Regions from separate parts of the Homo sapiens genome. Here all the other regions are linked to region 1. The links come from fine-mapping of genetic effects on gene expression. Tissue or cell type: whole blood. Region 1 holds a variant in brackets; each other region holds the start of a gene. All regions are shown on one strand. Distances are between the middles of the regions.

Region 1 (7,238 bases):
ATGTAATCTTCAACAATTTAGCAGTTGTATAATCTACTTAGTGGGTATATCTTAATTTACATAATTTTACCTTGTATTGATTCTGATTTGGGATATTAAATCTTTTTCATTTAGCACATCCTTGGAAGCTTATTATGTACAGGCACTGCTCATGAATGCTTTTTATTTTTTATTAAGATTTTCTTAGATTAAGAGTTGAGTGGCTGAGTAAAAAGAGGGGAATGTGCTAAAGAGAATCTTGTCTTTTGAGTTTTTTGTAGTAGCAGGCCATATAGCAAGCAATTAAAATTAATAGGAATTTACACAACTCTGTTAGCCAGCATAGGGTTGTGGAAAGTTATGGTAAATTAATTTAAAGCACTTAGAAGAATATCCTTTTCAATGAATAATTACTCAGTGTTAGCTATTTTTATTTGCTATATTATATTTTAGAGTTGAGTGTTCTTTTTAATTTGTAATTCAAATATACAGGTGACCAATTCTGAAACTTCTCCCAGTCCCCAGACCTGTATCTCCAACAGCTTGCTCAACATTTCTACATCAGTGTCCTACTGGTGCTTTAAAATATGGTATATGCTGAGCATTGATCTAAACAAAATCTGTCATGTCTTTAAAGTATCTTTATTCTTTTTTTTTTGAGACGGAGTCTCACTCTGTCGCCAGGCTGGAGTGCAGTGGTGTGATCTCGGCTCACTGCAACCAAGCTCCACCTCCTGGGTTCAAGAGATTCTTCTGCCTCAGCCTCCCAAATAGCTGGGACTACAGGCATGTGCCACCACGCCCAGCTGATTTTTGTATTTTTAGTAGAGATGGGGTTTCACCATGTTGGCCAGGATGGTCTTGATCTCTTGACCTTGTGATCTGCTGGCCTCGGCCTCCCAAAGTGCTGGGATTACAGGTGCGCCCAGCCCAAAAGTATCTTTATTCTTCCCTCACACTTGTTGCATAGTTTGAGTATAAAATTCTAGGTTGAAAATTATTTTTCCTCAGAATTTCAAAGGATTTTCTCCACTGCTTTTTAGCTTTCAATGTTGTGCAAGTCCAGAACCACTTACTTTCTGGTCTCTTGTATGTGACCTTTTGTTCCTCTCTCTGAAAGTTTGCAGGATGGCTTTGACCCACGCGTCCTGAGGTTTCATGATATGTCTTTATGGGTCTGTTTTTATTTACTGTGCTGGGTATCATTGGATCCTTTCAGTGTGAAAATGAAAATGTCTTTGAAATATTGAGTTAATGATTTCCTCTTCTCTTTTATCTGGACCTCTAAAGTGATCTTTAGTTTTCACAGTTTTTTTTCTTATTTTCCATCACCTCGTCTTTCTTGTCTTTTAACTTTGCTTACTTTCAGGGAGATTTCTTTATCTGATTTACAGCTGTTCTATTTGAGGTTTTCAATTTTCTTACATTTTAATTTTTAGGAGTCTTTTGTCTTCTGATTTTTAAAAACTGATACCTTGTTCTTCATGAATGCAATGGCATGGTATCTTTTCTCTCTCAAGATATTAATGGTGGTATGTTGTTTGTTTTTAAGTTTTCATCTCATTGCATAATCTCTACCAAATTCATTTAAATGTGACTGTTTGTCTTTTTCTTTCTTATCAGAGCCATTCCTTAAAATGTCTGGTGATTGATAACTGGTGTTGGTAATTTAGACTAGCTAATAAAAAGCGAATTGAAATGTCTGTACAAGTTGTTGGGACTAATCACCAGTGGTTTTTAACTGTAGGATGATCCCACTGGAGTGATATATTGCTCAACCTCTTAGGAATTCCATAATGCAAATCCAAACAAAGTGGTTTTTAACTTTCTGTATCCAAAACTTAAACTGTAGCAGATGATGCCAGTGCTCTCTCCATAGGCCTGTGTTTCCTTCCTGCTGTCAGACTCCTAGTGTCTGTTGATTCTCAACATCTAGCTCCTAAGGCTTGTTGCAAGGCCACCCTCACCATGCCAGAGCCTGTTTTGCCAATGTACATGCCGTGGAAGTGTCTGGAAAATTTGCTTCCTGAAGACAGCCCTTAACCAATGACTAATGATATGAGTAAACTCTGAGGTGTGACCTACGTTAACACCAGAACTACCCTGAGGGACTGAGCTAAAATTACCCTCTATGGGACCTTCCTTGGTGTCTTACCCTTGCTTAGCTTCCTTCCCTTCCTGTCCTGTTTCCCTACAAGGTTTTCCATAGAATACTTTCTAATAAATCACTTTGACACAAGCACCTCATCTTAGAGCTTACTGCCAAAAGACCCAACTTAACGATAACTACTACTAATTGCTCAGCATTCTCTTTAATTGGAGTGAAATCAGACTGAAGTTTTCTATGCTGTTCTTTGGGTTCTGTTTGTCAGATAATGTCATCAAACTTTTATATTAAAGAATAATTGGTTAATTTCTGCTCCTTAATTTTCTGGAATGATTTATGTAGTCCAAAAATTATTTTTTTAAAGATTGAGAGACTTCGTCCAGGAAAGTCTGGACCTTTTTGAAGTCTGGCTCTTTGACAACATTTTATTTTTTCTATGGTTGTCTATTAGGTTGTGTATCTTGAGTCAGATTTGATAATTAGCTTTCTTTTAAATAGAAATGTGTGTTTCATTGAGGTTTTTATGTTTAATAGCTATTATACAAAGTGTTATTTTTTCATTTTTTCTGTGAACATGAATACTATTTGAATTCTGATTTGAACAAACCAACTGCGAAAAGACATTTTTGTGCTAATTGAGACAGTTTGATTACAGAAGACAGTTGTGGAAATTTGATTACAGACTGTGGGTTAGATGATTCCAAATAATTATTGCTATTTTGTTAGGCATTTAGTAATGGCGTTATAGTTTTTAAGAAAATGTTGATATTTTCGGACAGGTATACAGAAGTATGTAGAAATGAGATGACTTTATGTCTAAGATTTGCATTAAAATACTATAATCATTTGAAGAAAGAATAAAGTAAATATGCCAAATTTTGTATTATAATTCAATCTGTATGACAGGTATGTGAGTTTTTTTTTGGTTTTATGCTTGTGTGAAGATTTTTGTAGTTAAGCTTTTTTTAAAAAAAAGTCAACTGAGTTACTTACGTGATGAAATTAGAACACATACTTCTTACAAGCACATTCTCTCCTATCCCCCTCTCCATTTCAGTTGGCACCATAATGCCATTTTTGCCTAACCATAACATAAATTAATATCATTTTATTTTATGGAGTTTTTCTTTCTGGGATAATAACATTTCTGCTTTGTTGCATAATTATCACAGACAGGTTTTTCTTTTTTTGGAGATGGAGTCTTGCTCTGTCACCCAGGCTGGAGTACAGTGGCGCGATCTTGGCTCACTGCAACCTCTGCCTCCCAGGTTCAAGCAATTCTCCTGCTTCAACCTCCCCAGTAGCTGGGATCACAGGCACCTGCCATCAAGCCCAGCTAATTTTTAAAAATATTTTTAGTAGAGATGGGGTTTCTCCATGTTGGCCAGTCTGGTTTGGAACTCCTGACCTCAAGAGATTCTC[C/G]CACCTCAGCCTCCGAAAGTGCTAGGATTACAGGTGTGAACCACAGTGCCTGGCCACACACAGGTTCTTTAGTTTTATATGGGAAGAGATTGCATGTCTTTTGCCAAGCCTTTCATTGTATGATTTCTCCATTTGTGAGTTTTATGGGTTTCGTTTTTGTTTTTGTTTGTTTTTTATTATTTTGGCATGTGTATCTTATATCCTGTGACCTTGCTGAATTTACTCTTTGTAGCATTTTTCTTTTCACAAAATCCTTGAGATTTCCTTCACAGTCACATTATCTACAAATCTGCAAATAGGGATGGTTTCATTTTTTCCATTACAATCTATATGCCTTTTCATTCTCTTTTTTATTTTTCTCCTTTATTATACTGGCTAGAATTTCCAGTACTATATTGAGTAAGAGTGATGAGAGTGGACATCCTTTCCTTGTTCATGATCTTAACGTGAAAACATTCAGTCTTTTACCATTAAGTGTACCATTAGCTGTTAGTTTTTGATACTTGTTCTTTATCAAGTTAAGGAAATTCCTTCTGTTTTTGTTTTTCTGAGAGTTATTTGTCCTGAATATTGGATTTTGTCAAGTATTTTTTCTGCATCTTTTCATTTGTGTGAATTTTCCTTTTTAGTTGGTTAATAGGATGAATCGTGTTGATTTTTAAATGTTGAACCATCCTTACATACTCAGAATAAACTCTACTTGGTCATAATTCTTTTTACATAATGCTGAATTCTATTTACTAATACTTTGTGAAATACTAATACTTCATTAAGTATTAGTACTTAACATGCTAATTCATACTTTTAAGTATTTTTGTTTCTGTATTTCTGAGAAGGGTAGTAGTCTGTAGTTTTTTTTGGTTTTTTTTTTGTACTGTCTTTGTTGGATTTTGGTATCAGGGTAATATGAACTTGATAAAATGAATTGGGAAGTGTTCTCTCCTACTTTTTGGAGGAGATTGTACAAATTGATGTTAAAACATTAAAAAATAATTTTTAGAACATCTGTTAGAATTCTCCAGTAAAACCATCTGGACCTGGAGATTTTTGTGGGGGTCAGGGGCGGGGGGTGAGGGGAGTTTTAAAATTGTGAGTTCAGTTTCTATAAATAATTATATGGCTGTTCAAATAATCTATTTCATATTGAGTGAATTGTGATGGTTTATGCTTTTCAAGGAATTGGTCCATTTCATCTAACTTGTCAAATTTATACGTGTAGAGTTGTTTGTAGTATTCCCTTATTATCCTTTGGTATCTGCAGGGTCAATAGAAATAACCCCTGTATTATTCCTGCTATTGGTAGTTTGTGTCTCAATCTTTAGAGGCTGTCCATTTTATTAATCTTATCAAAGAACCAGCTCTTTTTTTTACATTTTAGGTTCAGGGGTACATATACAGGTTTGTTACAGAGGTGAATTGTGTGTCATGGGGGTTTGGTGTATTTAAGCATAGTGTATTTAAGTGTATTAAGTGTATTTAAGTGTATTAAGCGTATTTAAGTGTATTAAGCATAGTGTATTTAACCAATAGATAGTTTTTCAGTCCTCACCCTCTTCCCTCCCTCCAGTCTTAGGTAGTTTCTGGTGTCTGTTATTCCCTTCTTTGTGTCCATATGTCCTCTGTGTTTAGTTACAAGTGAGAACTAATAAGGTTTTCTGTCCTGTGTTAGTTCACTTAAAATAATGCCTGTTTTAAATTTTATTAATTTCTGCTCTTTATTATTTTATTCCTTCTTGCTTTGGGTTTATTGTGCTCTTTTTGTTGAGTCTTGAGGTAGAAGCTTAAATAATCAATTTATTTCTCTCTTTTTTAATGTAAACAGTTAGTGCTATAAGTTTTCCTCTTAGCACTGCTTTTGCTGTGCCGCTCTATTGTTTCCAAACTGTTTCTTTGCTATTTTTACTTCCCTGTGTCATTAGCAAAACTAAACTCCAGGAAAGCAGGGAAAGGTACTTGCTTTTTGCTTTTCCCAGTATATAGCATAGTGCTGTGTATTTGAAAATAATTTTTGAGCTTTAAAACTTAGATCTCAGCTTGGCAGCTTACATCTGCTTATAACCAGGAACTGGAAGAAACACAATACAAATATTCCCTAAAATTAGAAGAAAACTATAGAGGGTTTATTGCAAGTAAAATTCTACTTAATAAATTTATTTTTGTTTGTTGAAAAGCATATGGAAAACACTGTATGGGTTAAGTCTTTAGCAGTGTGTTTTTTGTGTTTAAGAATTTATATAGAGAAACATTTGAGTTTTTTAATGGCAAAATTAAAGAGCAGAGGCATGAATATTTAGTCTGAAACCAGTTCCAATCTCTCAGCAAACATTAACATCCTCCCAGTCCATTCTTAGAGCCCGTGGACTTTTCAATATCTTATTTGCACCTCAAGATTTATAAATAGAGCAAAAGCGGTTTCTTGTTGGACCTACTGATGACATAACCTTTTAAGTATTCCATTTAAAGATAATTTTAGAGAGAAAGGGAAAGGATATGGAAAGTTAATAGACAGCTATAGGTGCGAGAGTGGTGTGTGGAAAAACTAGTGAACTTTAAATGAAATGGGGGTGAAAATTCCAATTTACCATGTTGGCTGGCTGGTTTGGGTCCATTTAATTAACCTGTCTCATACTCAGTTTCTTCATCTGTAATATGAAAGGGATACTGCTATCGAGTTTTCAGGTTGCTGTGAGCATCAGAAAAAAACATAAAAATTTCTAACATGGTACCTCACATGTACTATATTTGTAAATGTAAGGTGTGTGACTGTAAGATTTATATCACTTTCATAAGGAAAATCTTTTGGGAAAATATAAAGATGTATCAAAAATTATTTTAATATGGTTAGAAGAGGGAATATATTTTGAATACATAAATGCAGCAAATGAATGCCATAATCCAGAGCAAAATTAGAAGTACCTGATTGTCACCTTGGCAAAATGTGGTATAAAGTGTTAAAATTTAAAAAAAAAAATAACTAGAATTTCAGGGCTTTATTGTGAATTACACTCACTGACTTCCCGAAAGCCTGAAAGGAAGAAGACGTGCGCTCATGGTAAAGGGCATTAAAATCTTGGTGAAAGAATATTCTTGAACTGGTGGAGTGGCTGAAAACCAAGCATAAGAGAAGAGGTTAAAGGCTGTATCCTCAGAATTCTCTGGCACCCATGTAAGAAGACCATGGAGTAATATTTACAAAGTTCTTAGGGAGAAGAAAGTTTGTGCAATAGCAGACATTCTGAAGCCTGCAAGAATTTCAGATGTGGCACCGATTAGCGCCATTAAAAAAAACTGCTTGCTGAAACCCAGCTAACAAAAACATGATATTAATGAAAAACTCAAATTTAGAGGAGTTGTGATTAAAAAGGACTCTTGTTGAGCATGGAATCTAGTTTAATGTAGATCCAGGATTAAGCAGTCATGGAATTACAGTTCATAATTCATATAATGTAAACTATGTACATTTTTACCAAATAAAAGCAGTTAACAAAAATTGGTTGTGGCAGAGGGAGTGTGTGTGTATGTATATGTGTATATATATATTTGTACATGTGTGTATCCATGCTGATTTCCACATTTCACAGCAAGAAATCAATAGATAGTGCCTAAAATTGAGCTTATTTAATGAGCCCTCCAACTCCTTTCTGTTTTTTTGTAAACTTTTCTTAATTTTTAGAGGGATCCTTTAGAGGATGGGGGTCATATTACAGATGTCTAGGTGACATTCAGATTT
Region 2 (7,238 bases), 41 kb before region 1:
CCTAGAGAAAGAATAAAAAGTCTGGCATGTTTTATAGTCTCCCCTCAGAAGTCACATTACATCATTTCCACTACATTCTATTCATGAGAACAAGTCATTTAATACAGTCCAAACTCAAGGTGAGGGGAATGAAGTTTGACCCTTTGAAGGAAGAAGTATCAAATAATTTGTGAACATATTTTAATACTACCATATGAGTTAATAAAATTTAATACACGAAATTTAACTTAATTATTATAAACTGGTGTTAATATATTTGTAAAATGTAGGTATTTAAAGGGAAACTAAGTCTATTAAAGAAGACAATGTTTTAATGTTGTTGCTAGCTTGTTTGCATTTTCTGTCACCATTTTCACCTCATTCTGTCTATTAAAAAATTCTATATATAGTGCTAAATAAATGATGACTTGGCCTATCTTATTATGTCAACTAAGAATTGCATTTGATACTTACAACAGACAATAACAAAATCTTATATAGAAGGGATATAATCTTCCTCACCTAACAACAAATCCAGAAGTGGATAGTCCAGACCTGGTAAGTTGGCCCTCCAAAGCAACCATGGACCTAGGCACCTCTGGTGTCCTACACTATTAATAGTGTCTGTGTGGCTTTTGTTATTATGGGTGAAATATGGCTGTTCTACCTCCAGTATCATGTCCCTGTTTCAGGTTCAAAAAAAAAAAAAAAAAAGGGATGGGTGCATATCAAATGGCTAAAGCGATATTTCTTCCATAAAGCTTTCCTTGAGTCTCCTCTACAGAAATTCACTTTTATTTAATTGATGGTCACATGGCCAGCCATGACTTATGAAAGTCTAGGGGCATGAATATTTTTAACTGGCCACATTGTCACCCTGAAGAAATCAGAGTTCTACTAGTAAAGAAGAAAGGATTTTGGTTTAGACAACTAGTAATGTCTACCGACCTACTCCAACGAGTTTTGACATGCATTATTAAACACTAGACACAAGAGAAACAACAATACTGAGGTTTATGTGTGTTTCAAGTATGTTTCAAATGGGAGAATCTGGTCAGTTTTGAGTCCCACATATAAAGTATATTTTTCAAAGTAACCACAATTTTTATTCTCTAATTGAAAATGTCGAAGAATTGGCTGACATTAATGTCACTTCTAGGAATGTGTTCAAGGAGATAATTGCACAATTGTGCAAAAGCCTATGGATAAGAATGTTCATCAGAGACTTTTTTTATGGTAGTAAAAACTTGGAAACATAAATGTCAATCAATAGAATACTGGTTGGATAAATGATGGTATATCCATTTAACAGACAGTATGCAACTTTTAAAAATGATGTTATTCATGACTGTTGTTCACTGTGCAGATAATACGATCCAATTTATGAAATATTGTATTTATATGTCTATATGTGCTTTTATTCTTAGAGAGATGCCTAGAAGAATGTAACACAAAATTTAAGAAATGGTTATCTCTATATTATGGTATTTGGACAGATTTTAACTTCTTTGCATTTTTGTTTAAATTTTTTAAATTTGTTTGCATAAGCATGTATTGTTTTTATAAAACAATAGTTATTAGCTGGGTGCCACAGCCTGTGCCTGTAATCCCAACTACTGGGGAGGCTAAGGCGGGAAGATTGCTTCAGCCTTCAGCCCAGTTATTCGAGGCTGTTGTGTGCCAAGATCACACCTGTGAATAGCCACTGCATTCCAGCCTGGGCAACATAGAAAGACCATATCTCTTCAAAAAAAAAAAAAAGCTATTTTCAAAGAAAGGCAGGGTGGGGGCAGGGCTGATTTGGTCCAGTATTGTTTCTAGCAAGTAATTTTCCAGGATAAGGCTGTGGCTGACCTTATTTTAGGAAAGGGTTCTAATCTTTGCTCAATGGAAAAAAGTGTTATTCTTTATTAATTATAACTTTTAATAAAATTAAAACGAGATAAGGAGTTGTGAGTTTTGGTTTCTATTTGGAACACTGACCCCTGAAAGAGTTCTCCTTCCATGTTTCACAATGGATGGCAAGACATTGCGGAAAGGTGGAAGGATGTTGCGGAAAGGTGGAAGGATATTGCGGAAAGGTGGAAGGATATTGCGGAAAGGTGGAGGGGGAGGAGGCTGAGCAACAACTGTATACAAGTTGGGGAGGAGTAGAGAATGGACGTAATCATGTAAGGCAGAGAAGTCTGGACCCATGAGCCAAGGAAAGAGCAATAACCTGGACATCAGGATAGCTGCACTTCTCTTCTAACATGGACCTATCAGTTTATCTTTCTGGCCTTAGTTTTGTCATCTGAAAAATGAGACATCTGTATTAGAATCACTACATGTGCTTTATGTTTCACAATTCTTTTGGATATATTGATGCAATGTCCTGAGAAACTACACTACAGCTGAACCTAAGCAAATTAAAGGAAAAATAACAATAACTAATGTATATTATTATTTGTCTCAGGCATTCTAAGTAACTTGCCAATAGGTGGAGGGACCAAGATGCCAGCCCGGGCAGTCTGATTTCAGAGCCCATACTCTTTAACAACCATGCTGTAGAGTACTAAAGAACCGCTTGGATAGGGCATTTAAAGGAAGCAGGGTAGCTTTCCTATTCTGGAACGTGGTCTTGTAGATAATGGTTAACGCCAGTAAAGACTAAACCTTACCCTCACCTCATGACTATTGTGGGGTTGCCTCAACAGGTGGCAGCCTCCTCCCCCTATTCCAAAGACAACTTCCTTATTCAGAGCCCAGCGAAAGGGGAGATAGGTTTTGTTACGCCCCTAAGAAGCTCTTCCGGCCATTGCCCCACAGAACCGAAGTGCTGACAGAACCAAAGACGAAATGTGCCTATAGAAAGCTTTCTGGTATCATTATCTCGGTTCTCAGCTCTTCCTGGTTCTCACATGATGACCCAGCACCCGTATGCATACTTCATCTTATTACTTCCTTTTATTAAGCCCAGAGAGATACTGAGTAAAGAGAGCACGGGGAGAGAACAGAAAAACAAATGAACGGGTTAAGAGCAGGCTACAGGCCACAAGAGTCCTGCAGGGTTAGAGCCTGTACCTCAGACAAAGGTCCTTCAAGCATCCCCTTTCTCGCTCCCTATTGTTACCCTGCTTTCGTCCCGCTCAAGGTCTTGAAGCTAGTGCATAACCTTACAGCAGGATCAGAAATGCGGAGAGTAGCAGACACAAGCCGCAAGGGGGATACAACAAAATCTACTGCTCGTGCAAGATCCGACTTCCCAGACCCCTTCGCATTAGGGCGGAGCGTGCACCCGGCAGCCAATCCCCGCTTCCTCACGTCGCCGTATCCCCGCCCACCGCCCCTCCCGCTCCGCCCTTCCCTGGGGCTGGTGCGGCGGCGGAGACGTCAGCGCCAGGAGACTTCGGGTGGCGGCTGCGCCATAGGCGGGCCACGGCCTGGACGCGCTGCGGGGAGGGGCGGAGCGAGCGGGCGGGAGCGCGCGCTGGGCCCGCCTTGGCCGCCGCCGCTGTGCTGCCGCTGCCGGGGAATAATCTGGGCGGCAGCGGGCGGCCTCGGCTAGCGGCCACGAGCCACTTCTGCGGCTGCCCAGAGAAGCAAAGGTCACCAGTCCCAAGTCGTCCCCCTCTCCGCCCCCCAGGAGGGGCGAGAGGGAGCCGCAGCTGATGTCAGGTATGGCCGGCGGAGGCGCCCTCAGGCTACGGGTCCAAGGTCTCGTCTCCCCTCGCCCTCCCCCCTCTCCGGGTTGGTGGGGAAGCGTGGAGGATGGAACCAAACCCCGGGCGCGGCGGAACAGGTGTCTCGGGGTCAAAGCCGGGCTGGGGTCGTCCGGGCTCCTGAGGAAGGCGCGAGGACTTCCCGCTCCCGGAGCCTTAGCGATCTGCCACAGCGTTCGGCTGCGTACCCGGCCTCAATTTTGTGGACATGTACCCTCCTCTTCGTCGTGGGTCCTTCCCTTGTGCCCGCTCGCGCCCCTCTTCTGCTCGCGCGCTGCCTGGCGGCGCGGCGGGGCGCGCAGTGCGCCCGGACCGGACCACTTAGCGGTCCTGCCCCGCCGGGCCCTCCCAGTCCCTCCTCCCGGGCCCTCCCCGCCCCGCCGCAGACCTGTGGGTCCCGCCGGACTGGGCGCCCAGGTGTTGGGCACCTTCGCCGGGGAGCCACTCGGCTGCCGCGCCGCCTGAGCGCCCAGCGAGCGGGCTCCTTCCAGAGGTGCCTGGAGCTTGCTTGGGTCTAGCTTGGATCATCAGGTTTGTCTGTAGCTGATTTATTTCTTTAAGTTTCCCTGCCGCAGAGTGAAGCAGATACGTGTGTGTTGGGGCATTCGGGGCATGGAGGAGGAAGAAAGGCATTAAATTTTTTTTTTTTGCTTCTGCACCCCATTTTTCCCCAACAAATTGTGATGGAATTAGTAGGTGTTGACAAGTTGTCCATTTGCTTTGAATTTGGGTAAGTCGTACACTCTTAAAAGATGACCATAATTTAGCGCTGTGGATTTATTCTTTCCTGGTCCTTACCGTCTCCCCACCCCCCACCACCCCGCATTTAAAGCAAACAACAGTATCAGCAACAAAAAACCCACACATCCTGGAAAAATTCTCAAGATTTCTAACCTAGTTCTCTATATCCATTGTACATACTACTGTATTTCCTTTTAACGCTTTTTTAAGATAGAAAACTATTGTGCTAACCATGGATTGATTTCATTATGAATTTAAAAGTTATAAATTTAGAACCATAATGAATCAATGAATAATTGGCCGATGTGTAAGGGAGAGAAATATGTTAACTTACTAAAAGTTGGGCATAGAACATAGCTCTGCCAGGAAAAAGTGCGCATAATTTCAAGTTGCTTCATTCTGGTGTGAGTTTGGGAAGTTGGAATCCGAGTTTTTAGAAGGTATTTAGATGACAGCTTTTCACCCTCTTAGGTAAATGGCAGTTGAGCTTAATGCCCATGATGCTGTATGTTCTAAATATTGTATATAGTACACTATACTTTCTACCAGTCTTTATATATAGATGTACAGTTTAAGTGAATATAAAGTTTCAAGTTAGCAAACAGTTAACTCTTCACCTTATGGTAAGTGAAACAATGACTTAGTAAGGAAAGTATGACTCATTTAAAATTCTTCATAAAGAGAATAATTTTTCAGTATTAGTGGAGAGCTACTAAATGCCTCTCAAATTTGCCTGGAATGTGTATTTTTTTGTATCTTCCTACTTAGGATTAAGCATTTTAGAAATATTTTGTGTTTCCTATTTAAAGTTTTTCATAATTATGCTTTTTAAGACTAGACTACGTTGAGTAAATTCAATATCCAGTTATTCTTAAAATTGTATCACAAATTTATTTCAGGGTACACATAATGAGTTCTTGTTTACCTAATAGAAATATGAAAAAGTATGTCACTAGGCACATGCTACTATTTGTGTATTGATTTGTGCTAAAATTAAAATTGCATTATGCAGTTTAACATTATAAGCCATGGTAATTTAGAGTCTTTGTGTGGTAAAATCATTGATTGGAATTTTTGTGACAGTGCAGCTATAAATAAACCTTAAGTAGAAAATGGAAAGCTTGATGCTGAAATTAAATTCAGATAGGCTTAAAAGTTTAAGCTTCCCAATACAACCATCTTTTCTTTTAGAAGATTTCTTAAGATTTGATTAAAGACGCTGATGTACAAACTATAGCAAGGCTGAAAGAAAGGTATGACAAAAATCTTTTTACTTCAAATTCAGTGGGATTAAGTCATTCTTTTAAAAGAAGAAAGGTGGGGAGCGGGAAGGAGACTTGTTCCATAAAATGAGAAGTTAGCCTTTTATCTTAAAATCTGGTTAGAGAGGAACTCCAATGTGTACTTAAATTATTTTGCAGCTAATTCAAATGTCCAAGGGGAATATATATGCCAAAATCTGTAATATGTGAGAATAGGAAGAGGGAGAAAAAAAATATATAAAGAAACTGGTGTTTGTGATTTAGGGAAGCACATAAGAAGGTGGGGGAAACTGAAAGGAAAGTCTAAATAAATTATCTAGCACCTGTAGTATGTGCTGCCTTGCACATTGAAGGGGCGTGTTGGGGGCAACGAGAGGCAATATTAGGGAGATTCTGGAATGGGAAACCTGTATATTAAAGCACATTTAAACGGCTAGATGTTGGATAATAGGCAGAATTTGAAATTAAATACAGCTTGGCATAGTTATTTGCATTCTTGGTCATTGTATTTTCTAGGGCTGCGGTAACAAAATACGACAAACTGGGTGATTTAAAACAACAGATTTATTGTCTCAGTTCTGGAGGCAAGATGTCTGAAATCAAGATGTAGGTATGGCCATGCTCTCTCAAGGTTCGAGGGGAGAATCTGTTCCATGCCTCTTAGCTTGTTGTGTTACTGCCAATCCTTAGCATTTTTTGGCTTGCAGCTATGTCACTCCAGTCTGTGACTCTGTTATCACAACATAATCCCTGTGTGGCTCTGTCTTCAGATGGTGTGCTCCACTTCTTGCAAGGATACTAGTCGTATTGGATTAAGATCCACCCTAATCACCTCATCTTAACTTGATTACATCTGCAAAGACCCTATTTTGAAATAAGGTCACGTGCAGAGGTACTGGAATTAGGACTTCAACCTATCTTTTGTGGGGACACAGTTTAACCTGTAACAGTTGCACGGTTTATCTTTTACATCGTTCAGTAAATGTTTAGCATTATAGACTGAATCAGAGGCTATAGTGGAAACAGGATGGGACACTTACATTTATTTACATATATCAGTGATGTCTTAATCTGTTTTCTGTTGCCTCTAGCAGAATATCTGAAACTGGATAATCTATAAAGAAAAGAAATTTATTCCTTACAGTTAGGAAGGCTGAAAAGTCCTGGTTCAGGGGGCCACATCTGGTGAGGGCATTTGCTGGTAGGGACTCTGCAGAGTCCTGAGGATAGCACAGGGCACCACATGGTGAGGGGGCCGAGCATGCTAGCCCAGAACTCTTTCTTTCTTTCTTTCTTTCTTGTAAAGCTACCAGTTCCTTTCCCATGATAACCCATTCATGAGGGCTGAACCCTTAGTACCCAGTCACCATTTAAAGACTCCAGCTCTCAATACTGCCACAGTGGTGATTAAGGTTCAACATGAGTTTTGGAGGAGACAAACATTCAGACCACAGCAAGTGCTTACTATGTGCCAGGTCCTGGAGATAAAACAGTGGATAGGCAAAAATCTCTGTCCTCATGGAGCTTACATTCTGAAACACGGGTTCTAAAAATG
Region 3 (7,238 bases), 32 kb after region 1:
TACTAAAAGTATTGAGCTAGATAATAGGGATAAAGTGGCAAATTATATTTGTTGCTGTCAAGGAACTCACCTTCTATTAGAAGCAAAGTACCCAAAAAAGTAGTTGTGTGCAGTAGAGTTATACTCTCAGGCAGTGTGCTAATTGTTTTACATTGCATTATCCCATGTAATTCTTACTACAATCCTGGTGGATGGATTATACTATCCACTGTTTCAGGCTTCTACTGGGGATCTTGGTATGTATCCCCCCGTGGTTAAGGGGGAACTACTGTATTTTGTTAACCTCCAGCACTTTACACAAAAGGGGAACTGAAAGTACCAGATGCTACATAGAAGAAAGAATGGAGTGTGTGAAGCAAGAGACTCTTCTCGAAAGGGGCCAATTTAAATCATTTCATTTCCATATGCAGCCATAACCATGTAAAAACTTCCATCCACATCATTCAATGGCTTTTATACTCTTAATTCATATTGCTAAGAAAACTTCTGGCTTATTCTTCTTGTTAAAGTTTATGAAGTGTCCTGATATGGAGGGGGGAAAATGCCATTTCTATGACATAAGCCCATTAACCCACCCAAGTTGTCAGAATCAAGAGGAGGTGTTTGAGAAATTGTTTCCTCTTTTTAAACATTTAACATTTTTCTTTTGTGTTAGTTTTTCTTCAAAACGTACAAAAAAGTACGCATCATTGTATCTTGTGTATTTACTACCAGCTTTTACTAGATAAGTCATCTTTCCATTGAAAAAGTGATAAGCTCCATTATTTTAAAAAAAACTTAAACATTCATTGCAGATGACCATTTCAAAGATGAAAATTTTTAAAGGACCCCAAACCCCACCACCCCCCAAAGTAATTCCAATTAATGCATAAATATAAATTGGATAGGAAGCTAAATAGATAGAAATGGTTTTATTAAAGTGAGATCGTGTAACAAATGCTAATTTTAACATTATAATTTCAAAAAAATACAGTTGCTCTTGATGTGGCCAAAATCTGCAAATTGTCCTGGGGGCAGGGAGAGGGGAATGTCATCTTAGCAGCAACAAAATTGAGTGATTTCTTTGGGAGGGGGAGATGGAGAGAGGAAGAACGGACTGGACTTAGGCTTCTCTGTAGCAACATTCAGTGCTAAAGCAGAGTGAAGCAAACTCTACCAGATTCTTGGGGGAGGAAGAAGCCAAGTGATTTCAAATGGAAGGGTAAATTGAAAGAGTGAGGGTGGACACTTCTTGAAAAATCTAGATGATGAAGCCCATCTAAAGAGATAAATGGACAAACATTGAGAACAGGACTGGTGGTGGTTAATTATTTAACTATGTAGCTATAGAATTATTTAAATAAGGCTATGGAAGCATATTGAAATGTTATAAATCTTGATATAGAAAAGATGATTAACAAGTTAGAAAATAGAATATCAAAGACGAGGTAATATATACATGCCCTAATTGGTTTTACTTTTCAGAATAGAAATTTTGTAAAATTGATAATATATCAAGAAATAGGGATGTAATATTCTGAATAGTTATGAAGGTAATCACCAAAACTGTAAGCCTGATAACTATTAAAATGAAAACACAAAATTAAAGATAACACAGGCCATATAAGAGAGCTAAAGGGAGAATTTACAATAGATGACAGAATTAAGACCAAACATAGATATGATGTCAAATAAGGAAAAATATGATTTAACTTATAAATGTATGAATATACAAAAACTGTTGGCAGTACCTTTGGGGAAGGGTACTAGGATTGGAAAGAAATTCAATAATTCACTGTTTTCCTTTTTGAACTTTTAAAAAATCATGTTTATACTGTCACAGTTTAGAGAAGTAAAGTGGGAAAAAAAAGCTGTTGGCCCTGGCTCCCTAGGGTTTTTACAACCAGTGGTGAAGAATGTCCACAGACATTCTTAAGCAGCAGTAGAGGTAAGCAGGTACACACATGAGCTGGAAAGATCTCAAAGCTGATTTGGATTCTTTTATCTTGCCATAAGAAATTACTTTCTTCAATCAAGGGTATAAAGACTGCTGAACTAGTTCATAATGAGGGTAGATGAAGGAGGTATCCATCTTCAAGAGTGGTAAATAGTTGACCCATACAAAGGACCAGCAGCCTCATGTGGACCCGTCTTAGCATCCTTCTCTCCTTCTACTCCAAGGGTGAAGAGTACTCGGAAGTTACTATTTATTCTCAAATCCTTGTGTCAGATTATTTTCATATCTTTCTTAGATCTGTTCTGGCTTAAGTCTTATTCTCTTATTCATGGAAATAGAAGACACTGAGCCCTTTCCCACATAAAAATATAGGACTACTGATTTCTAGAGCTTAAAGATGTTCTAACGCCTCGTTTGAAAGATTCAGAAACAGATCTAGAGATGTTAAAGTTTAGAAAAATGACACAAATAATGCCAGAAGTGGCAACAGAACTCAATTTTCCTGACTCCCAGGTTAGTGGTCTTTGTACTAAATGCAATTTCTTATCTTCCCTGAACAACCTGAGCTATGTACTTTAACAAAATTTTTTGTGGGTACATAGTAGGTGTACGTATTTATAGGGTTCATGAGACACTTTGATACAGCCATGCAACAAGTAATAATCACATCATAGAAAATGGAGTATCCATCCCCTCAAATATTTATCCTTTGTGTTACAAACAATCCAATTATACTCTTTTAGTTATTTTTAAATACACAATTAAATTATTGACTATAGTCACCCTATTGTGCTATCAAATACTAGATCTTATTCATTCTTTCTGTTTTTCTTTGACCCATTGTACTGCTAGATAGAACTCACATATTTGGTCCCTGCCTTTTCCCACCATTTGCAAATAGATTCTAGGAACGATCCTAATAGTTGCCAGGCACTGTTATCAGAGATCAAATCTGTCTTGTTTCCAATTGTGCCTGGGACATAATAGGATTTTTTTTTTTAAATAACAAAGCCATGTGTAGTGCTGCATGCCTGTTGTCCTAGCTACCCAGAAGGCTGAAGCTCAGGAGTTCAAGTCCACCCTGGGCAACAAGACTCCATCTCCACAACAAAAAAGTTTAAAAAGGTTACTATACGATTACTATACATTGTATGTATCAAAATATTACTCTCTCCCCCATAAATATGTACATTATATATCAATTAAAAGGAAGTAAATGGTGAGCATCCTTTCACTATGAAGAAAAGTTCTCCATATGCCCCCTACTTTCTTCTGTTTCATTTTTATGGAGACCTCTAAACAAAATGCTTTTCTCATAGATATGGAGGGACTCCTAAACAGGTTTTCTGCTTGAGAAAATCTTGATTTGAACTCCACGTATCATACACCATCAGGCAAAAAACCTCGCATTTACGTTGGAGAATACAGTCCAGAAAAAGAACAAAACCTCAAGTGTGGGCAGAAGATTGTGTGTATTTGCTATTAGGGAGGAGAGCTCAGGTTCCTTTTCTCTACAGTGACCATTAGACATTCCAAAGCACTGTCACTTGGTGTAGCTCAGTGCTCTTGGTTACTGAAGCAACAAGTGATCTCTGATGACAAAACAAAGGTAGGGTCGTGCCTAACACTGGTAAGGAGAAAACTGTGTCGAGTTAGTTAATAATTAATTTACATGTCAAGTTACAAGTTTTCTATCCTAAAATCCAAAAAAAGCAACAGCTCTTTTTTTTCCTCCAGTCATTAAATCACCCATTCAACAAACTTTCACCAGGCTCATGGTTTGTCAGCTATAGAAGAGAAAGGAGGGCGAAACCTGTGGTTAAGGCTTGCCTGAAGGATCTCACATTTGGGTTGGGGGCTGACATGCCAGTGAACAAATAGCCTCCTCAGGACTATGATAGAGGTATTTACAAAGAACTATAAGAGGACTGTATATTAAGTGTTTAGGGATCTGAGAAGTTTCAAAGAAATTGTGGCATTTGAACTGGATTTAAAGAATAAGGCTCAGGTACAACTTCATGTGAAAGAGTCGATATATTCACAAATTTGCCAAAGCCCAGTTAACTTCAATTCTTCGAGAGTTCCAGTTTTTTCCCAGGTGCAGTCAGTGTACCATTTTTTTCTGAGACCCACAGCCATTTTCTTTCATTGGCATGTTTTTAGGTTTATTTTTCAATAACTCCAGTACCCCTGAAATTTCCTTCCTTAGATCTTGAATAAATATATTCAAGTTGGGCATTACTGCATGGTTTGAGGATAATGTCTTTCCTGTTAAAAATATTTTTAAGTTTTTATACAAAGGTAATGTATGTGCTTGGTAAAAGAGAATGAATATAAAATGAAAAGCTATAATCTGCTACAGCCCCACCCAGCAGTCCCTTTGTCCAGCCATAAACAGAAAATAACAGAACTGTACTCATTTCCAAACTAAACACATCATTCTGCTCCTTGCCTTTTCTGCTTACTGTTTAATAACTTAGAGATAATTCTTTTTAATAGTTAACTAGATCTCTGTATGGATGTGCCACAATTTTTAAGCCATTCCTCTATTGATAATTGAGTTGGATACTTTTATTATAATTATTGCTGCACTGAACATCCTTGAAATGATTGTGTGGGTACAGCCATAGGATAAGTTCCTAGCAAGTAATTGCTGAGATAAAGAATGTATGCATTTAAATATTCATAGATACTGCCAAATTGCCTTCTTAAACTGTACTGTACTACCTTATACTACTACTCAACATTTGCGAGTATATTTTCCTGCCCCTTTTACCAAAGTTTTTGATTATTGAACTTACTAGTTTTATCACTGCATTAATATCTGATAATTGTTGATTTGTACTTAAGGTTTGAGTTTTTTTTATACATTGGTAATTTGCATTTCATCTTCGCCAGTTTTTAATATTGAATTACTAGGGTTTTTAAAAATTTTTATAAACTCTCTGAATATTGGTTTATTTATATGTATTAGAACTGTTATGATTATTTCGTACTTGTTTTTTCCCCACACAAACCAATTAATCTTTTCTTAGGGCTATTGAATTGTGTGTCTTGCTCACACCAAGGTTTATTTATAATATGCTTATGTTTTCCTCTTACTTTCATAGTTTCATTTTTTGTGTTTATATTTTTGATCCCTCCAGAATTTATTTTCTTATATGGAGTGAGGTAGGAAAATGGCTACCCGTTTGTTGTAATACACTTTATTTGACGATCCTTTCTTTCAACATTTATTTTAAATCACCATTACCCCATGATATTTCATTATCGGTTTGTGTATAAACTGTATTCTGGTCTGCTTATCTGCCTATTTCTTGTGCAGTACATTGTTTTAATGATTTCAGATTCATAACACTTAATAACTGACAGAATGAATTACCTACTTAAACATTTCGTACAGACACTGTGGTGGATTCTGCTACATATCATGGCATTATGCCATGAATGCTTTCCAGCATTACTGGCAGAAATAGCCACCCTTAAAATATGCCCCTCGTGATCCTCAGCGGTTCCCAGGGTACAGTGTAATGTGTACCCAGAAATGGGTTGCCCTCTTGCCCATTCCTGGGCTGCCTCCTAGGGACAGTGACTCCAGTTAACTTGCTGCTTCAGTGGGCACTACCATCTTCTGCTGGTGACTTCTGTCATCTTGTTTGACCCTGGGGAAAAGACTTATTTTCCTCTTTGTTGCCCACAGTAGAGACCAGACTTTCCTGACCGTTCCAGAATAATGAAAGAAAGGGTCCAGATAGTACTTTATGAGAGCGGCCAAGCTCCAGTGGAATCCTCTCCACCCTTACCAGGCTACTGCTCTGCCCTCTTTGCTACCTGTTTCCAGGTCACCAAAGGTAGTTCAGCTACCCCACTAGAAACCTTCAGTTATCAGCACTTCTTTAGAATTGGAGCCAAATTGACATCTGCACTAAAAGAAATGAGGAAGGTTTCCACTCACCTAACACTCTGGACACCCTCCTCCCAAAATTCCTGCTGAACCAACCTCTCCCCTGGGAAACTGGCAGTGAAAACATTTAGTCTTTTCAGAGGAAATTACACCTTTACTCAGAGAAACGTGGTCTGGATTTTGGATCTGCAGCCCCAGTAAGAGAATTGCCTAATGATCTGGTATCAGTTAGTACAATCAGGCCCTTCATATCTGTGGGTTCCACATCCATGAATTCAGCCAATCGTGGATCAAAAATATTCAATAAAAAATAATATGACAAAAATATAAACAATACAGTATAACTGTTATTTCCATAGCATTCGTATTAGGTATTATAGAGATGATTTAAAGTATGCAAGAGGATAAGCATAGGTTATATGCAAATACTATACCATTTTATATAAGAGATTTAAACATCCATGGGTTTTGGTATCAGAGGGGGTCCTGGAACCAGTACCCCAAGGATACTGAGGGACGACTGTCTATTTCGCAGTCTGTATTGTTTTTACAAGTGGGGCAGCAACAACCAAACCCAAATGAGGCCGCATCAGGCTCAGCCCTGTTCCTATTTTGTCTCCCTGCACTAAGGGTTTCAAGCATGTCTTAGGGCTGTGGTCAGCTTGTTAACACAAATCAGCCTTGAAACCTAACAGAATGTTACTTTACAATTTCCTGTTACTATGTTCCTTTTTAAAGTAAGCTACTTCCAAATCGATCTTCATCCTTTTCAAAATACCAAATTTCGGAAATGGAAGGGGGAAAGGAATGGGGGAAATACAAAGTGAAATCACCTGTATTTTCTTAGGGACCCTAACTTAGACATGACCAGCTATTTCTGAGATTCTTAAGTAAACTGTTTTTTCTCTCTGAAAGTCTGACAGTCTCTGCCATGTCAAGCTCTTTATTTCATGTCTTATACTTAGACCCACTCAGGCTACTTGGACAAATGCTCAAATAAGTTGACCAAATGAAAAACGTGTTCAGAGGTTGAGTGACTCAGAGTGAGAACAAGTGAAGCAGAACTGAGTGGTGGAACTTAACCTGCGCCTGAAGTTTTGAAACACATCAAGTCTAGTCTTCTGTATTTTAATAATATACAGACTTAGAGGGTGGAAAGAGATAAAGTGTTATGTGCTCATAAAATCAATTTATAAGTGACCTCATAGGGTCAATCACCTCAAGATAATATAAATTCATGATTTAATATATTAATGTAACCTTTGCTATGTATTAATCAGTATAAATTTATAATTCAGTAGTCTACAAATCCTAAACTTAGAGAATATTTTCTGAATTTGCTCTTTGATTACTCCACGTCTCTGCATAGAATTTTCTGACACTCACTCATCAGGATGT

Evidence for each region. PIP is the estimated chance that this variant, and not a neighbour inherited with it, causes the effect.
Region 2: C1GALT1 starts here. The variant in region 1 is fine-mapped to the expression of C1GALT1 in whole blood (INTERVAL, PIP 0.97).
Region 3: it holds the start of LINC03016, and the variant in region 1 is fine-mapped to the expression of LINC03016 in whole blood (TOPMed, PIP 0.91).

What each region holds. Positions count from the first base shown.
Region 1 is chr7:7,219,900-7,227,137 of GRCh38, forward strand. The region is part of intron 1 of C1GALT1 (core 1 synthase, glycoprotein-N-acetylgalactosamine 3-beta-galactosyltransferase 1); the gene reads left to right. Among named protein-coding and RNA genes, the nearest start is that of LINC03016, 32 kb to the right of the region's middle. The variant C/G (reference allele first, on the strand shown) is at 3,509.
Region 2 is chr7:7,179,185-7,186,422 of GRCh38, forward strand. It overlaps C1GALT1 (core 1 synthase, glycoprotein-N-acetylgalactosamine 3-beta-galactosyltransferase 1), which reads left to right and starts at 3,360. Exons shown (of 4, transcript NM_020156.5): 1 at 3,360-3,636. RefSeq lists silencers at 3,100-3,709, 3,930-4,149.
Region 3 is chr7:7,251,634-7,258,871 of GRCh38, forward strand. LINC03016 (long intergenic non-protein coding RNA 3016) reads left to right here and starts at 3,521. Exons shown (of 4, transcript NR_108073.1): 1 at 3,521-3,545.